Linked DNA regions of Homo sapiens. The protein of the gene in region 1 purifies or fractionates together with the protein of each later gene. This does not show direct contact. Each region holds a gene or a part of one and is shown in the gene's direction. Other genes may lie near its edges.

Evidence for each region. The genes of interacting proteins can lie anywhere in the genome.
Region 2: the proteins of MYH2 (region 1) and PPARA purify together in Homo sapiens (co-immunoprecipitation; one large-scale study listed by IntAct). This does not show direct contact.

What each region holds. Positions count from the first base shown.
Region 1 is NC_000017.11:10,543,159-10,546,819, reverse strand, and holds part of MYH2 (myosin-2), read left to right. Parts: intron 1-1,317; coding exon 1,318-1,474; intron 1,475-2,692; coding exon 2,693-2,720; intron 2,721-2,803; coding exon 2,804-2,918; intron 2,919-3,016; coding exon 3,017-3,109; intron 3,110-3,658; coding exon 3,659-3,661. UniProt on the Homo sapiens protein: Myosins are actin-based motor molecules with ATPase activity essential for muscle contraction.
Region 2 is NC_000022.11:46,230,408-46,234,068, forward strand, and holds part of PPARA (peroxisome proliferator-activated receptor alpha), read left to right. Parts: intron 1-1,384; coding exon 1,385-1,832; intron 1,833-3,661. UniProt on the Homo sapiens protein: Ligand-activated transcription factor. Key regulator of lipid metabolism. Activated by the endogenous ligand 1-palmitoyl-2-oleoyl-sn-glycerol-3-phosphocholine (16:0/18:1-GPC). Activated by oleylethanolamide, a naturally occurring lipid that regulates satiety.

The sequences.
Region 1 (3,661 bases):
GCATAAGCCATCATGCCTGGCCTACATTTTTTTTTTTTTTAAAAACAAATTTCACTCATTTTCAATCCCCTGAAATAACAGCAATTTGTATCTGTGTGTTCTGGTCCCTTCTATCTGGAATGTCACCTCCTCGATGAAACCTCTCCCACTTCCCCAAGCAGTGAGATGTTCTGTCCTTTCCTTTCTGTCCCTGCCTTAACACTAACCATGTTTCTCCTTGATCATTCATTTACATGACTGTCTCCTACATAGACTGGGGATTCCTCAAGGGACATCATCTCATTTATCTGGTCTCATTTATACTGTCTGGTAAAGGTCTGCACATAATAAACATGCAGTAAATATTTTTAAATCAAATTTATTATACTATATTCATATTTTTGCATAGTTTAGCCAGTGCTGTTATTTAGCTAGGCAACACCTATACAAGTGTACCTAGAGTTGATGGTCAGCATCCAGTTTAACTAGTTGGTGCTTGTCTTGAACCAATTGTCAAAGATTTTTTAAATCCCCCTATTGTAATCATGATGTATATATATATATATATATATATATATATATATCATTTCGTGTCCTGTTTCCTTATAACTTAAAAACGTTTTGTAAATATTTCCTGAGTGTTGCTGTATACTTTCATGTTTACTTTTTTAAATGCCTGCATCAAATTGTCTTAGAAGATTTACCATAGTTCACCTAACCATTCCCTTACTGTTGGCCACTTAGCTTATGTCCAAATTTATGTTCTCATAAATTTGAATTATCTTAATGCTGCAAAGAAAATATAAACCATTTCCATAAAACAATAAAAGTTTCATAGCACATGTGTTTAATAACATGTACTTCTTCTTCTGCTATGTAAAAATCACTGTGAAAAGCCCTGAGGAGAGCAATAAGAAAGCTGAATTGTAGTCACTTCCCTCAGGATTCTGCTATCACATTGTTGAACTTGCCAACTAGTTTTCAAGCTGATGCCTTGAAGAAATAAGAGTACTCACTTAAAGTGCTCCTTTTTGTTAAAATTCAATTAATTTCCAGACCAGCCTGGGCAACAAAGTGAGACTTTAGCTCTACAAAAAGCACGTACAAAATTAGCTGGGCATGGTGATGCATGCCTGTAGTACCAGCTACTTGGAAGGGTGAGGTGGGAGGATTGCTTGAGCCCGGGAGGTTGGGGCTGCAGTGAGCTGAGGTAGCACCACTGCACTCCAGCCTGGGTGACAGAGCAAGACCCTGTCTCAAAAAAACATTCAATTAATAAGTTAATTTCACAAATAACAGGAAAGGTCTTTGGGTACTTATTCTTTTTCCTTCTCATAGACCTATTCAGGTCTCTTCTGTGTCACTGTCAACCCCTACAAGTGGCTGCCTGTGTATAAGCCCGAGGTGGTGACAGCCTACCGAGGCAAAAAGCGCCAGGAGGCCCCGCCCCACATCTTCTCCATCTCTGACAACGCCTATCAGTTCATGCTGACTGGTGAGTGAGCCGAATGCTTTGCAAGTGCGTAAACCTTTAGAGCAGAACCATAGGAGAAAGAGACTCGAGGCAATCTCAACACATTCCTTGAGATCGTCCCTTTTAGTTGAGGCTGGTGTATTTATGAAGGAGAAGGTCCAGGAAGGGGAGAAAGGCTGATTTGTAATGCGTAATATTACATAATTGCTAATGATCTCTTAAATTTTGAAAAGTTCAACAGAGGCTGGCCATGGTTAGTTAGTATACTTTTGAATGACTCAGAAACTCAAATAAATATGAGCAAAAATACAAATATTTCTGTGTATGTATATATACACACACACACACACACTCATGCACGCACAATCACACATACAAACTGTGTCTCCGTTACTATGAGCCAAAAAATGGAAGAGTAAAACTTGTCTCTGTAGTTTCAGCCTCAGCATCCTAAATTGTGACAGATTAAACAGTCTCTCTATATGAAGGACGGCACAATGCTATCGCCCTTTGCCCAGAACCAACCTGAACAGGCTCCAGATTTAAGGTGTATTTGGTATTAAAACAGTTAGATGTTGAATCTGCTTCCTACAATATTGTCTTGGCTAGACCAATCTAAACTACTTGTGGCACCTTGAGAAGGGGCTTAGAGAATTCCTCTTCAGAGACAGTAAAACATCAAAACAAAATTTTACCTTTTCCTAAAAATATGACCAAAGCCGTATTTCTAAAACTATCACCTTTACTGTACTTACTCCTTTTCACACATTAAAAATATCTCTAATGCTCATTCTTCATTACGCCTTGCACCCACAATATATATGTCCCTAACTTAAATCATCAACTAAACCTAACCAAAGAGCCAAGTCTACTTTTGGTGTTTATTTAGTGATAGAGTATTAAAAAGAAAAAGTCTGGTGCTTCAGGAATACACAGCCACGTGGTCATCACTTATAGAGTGGCATTCAAACATTTTCCTTCATCTTAGAATTTTTTTCCTCGAAGGAAATATTTCTTGGAAGATTTGAATATAAAACCAATAAAAGTAGTGGTGTTCTGTTTAAATGGGTGGATGTGTGCTAAAGTTGGGGAGGGAGAAAGTGGTAGGTCTAAAGCCTGCCAAGCCCTAAAGGTTGCAAAGTCCAGACTGAATAATACTAAGTTCATTCCATTTTACTTTACTTATCATTTACAAATATGTAAGAAAACAGTATTAAATGTCTATAATTTCTTTTGTAGACCGAGAGAATCAGTCAATCCTGATCACGTAAGTAGATTTTATGCTTTCTTTACATGGCTGTGATAGCTGCTAGGTTTGAGACCACATCTGATTGAGTTTTGATTTGACAGTGGAGAATCTGGTGCAGGGAAGACTGTGAACACCAAGCGTGTCATCCAGTACTTTGCAACAATTGCAGTTACTGGTGAGAAGAAGAAGGAAGAAATTACTTCTGGCAAAATACAGGTGAGTCTGATTGTCACAGTCAGAATCCAGACTCTGTCGGGACTCTCAGGTAGGAAATTCCCAAGCCCCAGATGCAAGGACTGCTCTTGCCTTTGCAGGGGACTCTGGAAGATCAAATCATCAGTGCCAACCCCCTACTGGAGGCCTTTGGCAACGCCAAGACCGTGAGGAATGACAACTCCTCTCGCTTTGTAAGTCTCTTGGACACGCTAATAGATGCTGTTCACTGGTCAAAATTTATGAGATGTTTGTAATTACATTCTCTGAATCTTTTTCATTCCCATTCTATTACATCATTGTTCTTTCCTTTTCCTCTGAGCATGTAATAACATAGATCAAAGCCCCATCTTGAAGGATATATGGCCTTTTTCCTGAGTTCTTTCTTATCTGTCATGATCTACACTTACTCACAATTTTAAAATTTTTATTTTTAATTTACAAATAATAATTGTACTTACGAAATACAATGTGATGTTTTGATATATGTTATGTGTATATTATGGAATGATTAACATGCTAATTAACATATCCATTACTTCACATACTTAAGAAATATTTACAATTTTTAAATCAAAGATAAAACTCTTCTACTTATAAAATAGGAGATACACCTTTTTCTACCTGATGCAAATACTCTCTGAATTGATTTAATATTAAAGTACCAGCATCAAATGTTTGGAATTTCTCAAAGATTTAATATTATATAAAAAAAAGGTAGTAATATTAGCTTTTATTTCAAGGGT
Region 2 (3,661 bases), on another chromosome or scaffold:
ATTGACCTGTGTCTGCATGAGCTGTGGACCACATTATAATCAGAGAGATCTCTCAGATGTTGTCACTTTCCTGCTCTACCCGCAGATGTAAATTTCAGCCAACAGCAGTGTTTGTGCTCATTTTCCCCGGCTCTCCCACACATGTAATCCCTTCTGAGCATGTTGGCTTCAAATAATATGGCCAGCCACCTCTTCCACCACGAGATCTTCAGGAAATGGCAGGCCACTGGGTTTACATGCAGATGGCATGGGAGCACACAAGGCACGGCTGTGGGGAGTTGGCACTTGCTCCAGAATATGGAGCACCGAGTGAAGGTTTCAGTTTCCTGCACTGAGAGAAACAAGGGCATTCCGAGGCTTTTCCACTTTATCCCTAAAGAGTTTCACAACGCTTGTTTGCCGATTTCTACATAGATGCCACCTTTCTGAGTTGTATGTATTTACATGCCAAATGTATTCATTGAGCAGCGTTAAATAATGGTGTTCACCCCTAAAGTGCATATACTGGTAAAATTAAGAATGATCGTAATTAAGCCTCTTGCAATAGTCATTAGTTCAGAGAATATTTAAGAATATTAAAGGTGCTTTGCTAATGTCCTCGTTAGTTTTGTTTTGACAAAATCAGTACTTCAGTTTCTTGTTTCTTTTTTTTTTGAGACGGAGTCTTACTCTCGCTCTGTCGCCCAGACTGGAGACTGGAGTGCAGTGGCACGATCTTGGCTCACTGCAACGTCCACCTCCCAGGTTCAAGCGATTCTCCTGCCTCAGCCTCCCGAGTAGCTGGGGTTACAGGCACACACTATGCCTGGCTAATTTTTTTTTTTTTTTTGAGACGGAGTCTCGCTCTGTCACCCAGGCTGGAGTGCAGTGGCGCAATGTCGGCTCACTGCAAGCTCTGCCTCCTGGGTTCACGCCATTCTCCTGCCTCAGCCTCCCGAGTAGCTGGGACTACAGGCGCCCGCCACCACACCCAGCTAATTTTTTTGTATTTTTAGTAGAGACGGGGTTTCACCATGCTGGCCAGGCTGGTCTCGAACTCTTGACCTCAGGTAAACCACCCACCTCAGCCTCCCAAAGTTCTGGGATTACAGGCGTGAGCCACCATGCCCAGCCCAGTACTTCAGTTTCTTAGCGATGAAATCCACCCAATGTCAGGCGATGACTATTATTATTTTACTGATTTATACTGTTTGTTCTCTATTAATGTCTTATTTTCCCCAACCGATTTTGAAGTTGAGTAAGGACTATGTTCCGCGGGTATCTTGAGTCCTCTGAGGCACTGAGCTTGGTGATTTGGACGCAGGAGCTGCTCATTAGTGAGCTGATAGCTGGGAGCATAGCGCATCCCACATCACCTGACTTACCTTGGTGTCCTCCTTTGTAGCCTTTTGTCATACATGATATGGAGACACTGTGTATGGCTGAGAAGACGCTGGTGGCCAAGCTGGTGGCCAATGGCATCCAGAACAAGGAGGCGGAGGTCCGCATCTTTCACTGCTGCCAGTGCACGTCAGTGGAGACCGTCACGGAGCTCACGGAATTCGCCAAGGCCATCCCAGGCTTCGCAAACTTGGACCTGAACGATCAAGTGACATTGCTAAAATACGGAGTTTATGAGGCCATATTCGCCATGCTGTCTTCTGTGATGAACAAAGACGGGATGCTGGTAGCGTATGGAAATGGGTTTATAACTCGTGAATTCCTAAAAAGCCTAAGGAAACCGTTCTGTGATATCATGGAACCCAAGTTTGATTTTGCCATGAAGTTCAATGCACTGGAACTGGATGACAGTGATATCTCCCTTTTTGTGGCTGCTATCATTTGCTGTGGAGGTGAGTGGTTGATTTAATCTGCTGGTATCATGTCACTGACAGGCTCCTGTCTTGAAAAATTTGACAATGGGAAATCCAGTACCAGCCTGAGCTGTTCCAGTGGAGGGGACACTCACATGGTGGGAAGACGTCTGACCCCCAGTCACTGCTGAGAATTCAGTGGGAATTATAACAATATTGTATAATATTATAGTATATATTGTTATTATCTATAAATACATATTTAATATTATGTAAATGTATGACATTTTAATCATAATATTAGCCAGGTGTGGGGGTGCACACCTTTAGTCCCAGCTACTTACTCAGTAGACTGAGGCAAAAGGATCTCTTGAGCCCAGGAGTTCAGGTTGCAATGAGTTATGAATGCACCACTGCACTCTAGCCTGGGCAACAGAACAAGACCTATTTCTTTAAAAAAAAATTATATATTTTGCACAAATATATATATAGAGAAAAAGAGGTCGGACATGGGCCTGTAATCCCAGCCCTTTGGGAGGCTGAGGTGGGTGGATCACTTGAGCCCAGGAGGTTGAGACCAGCCTGGGCAACATGGCAAGACCCCGTCTCTACAAAAAAAAAAATAGAAAAAATTAGTCAAGTATGGTGGCATGTACCTGTAGTCCCAGCTACTTGAGAGGCTGAGGTGGGAGGATCACTTAAGCCCAGGAGACAAAGGTTGCAGTGAGCCAAGGTCACGCCACCACACTCCAGCCTGGGCGACGAAGAATGACCCTGTCTCAAAAAAAAAAAAAAAAAAAATTATACACACACACACACACACACATTTCGTTTATATTATATCTAATATTATAAACAGATATAATTTATATATTATGATATTCCTGTATATATTATATAATGATGTTGTATTCATATTATAGACAATATTGTATGAAGTGCTATACAGATGTCAGTATAGTTGCTGTCACAGTTGGTTATGTTGATGAAAAGTATATTTCCTAATGCAAAATATAATATCAGTCAGCAGCCAAGTGGCAGTGACTGCAAGGTTTGCTTTGCCCGAGGAAGCAGATCCCAGGGAAGGCCGATCTGGTCCTCTCTGTGGAAGCTGGCTCTGCAGCCTCCACATTTTTGGCTCGGTGTCACGTTCCTTTAAATAGCCCCATCTCAGGTCTAGGAAGGTCATCCACCTACTGCAAACTCGGCTGACCTTACCCAGGGTTGGTGGAGACAGATGGGGTCTCCCACACTGCCTGCAGCCATACTGCGCCTGGGGGATTGACTCACTGTCAGCATGGAGCTGACTCAGCCCTACCAGCCGTGCCCGTTACTGTGTGGCTGGGCACAAGTCAGATGAAGGAAGTCCTTGCGCTCTGGCATAAAGTGTACAAAGACAAAGCAGTTATGCATAATTTGTCCTTTAGTATGGTCAGGATGTAGCATTGTGGGTAAAATGCAGTTGCAGAACTATTTATATGTAGCATGATCACAGTTTTATAAAGGAAATTATAATCCTATATCAATCCTATGTATATAGAAAAATGTCCAGTGAGATATATGTTAAACCTATTATGGTGGGATTAAAATTATGAGGGGGGATTTCTATTTTTCAAAAGATTCCTCCTTTTTTTTTTTTTTGAGACAGAGTCTCCGTCTGTCACCCTGGCTGGAGTGCAGTGGCACGATCTCAGGTCACTGCAACTTCCGCCTCCTGGGTTCAAGTGATTCGCCTGCCTCAGCCTCCTGAGTAGCTGAGATTACAGGAACATGCCAGCACACCTGGCTAATTTTTGTATTTTTAGTAAAGATGGGGTTTCACCATATTGGCCAGGCTGGTCTCAAACTCCTGACCCCGGGTGACCCAC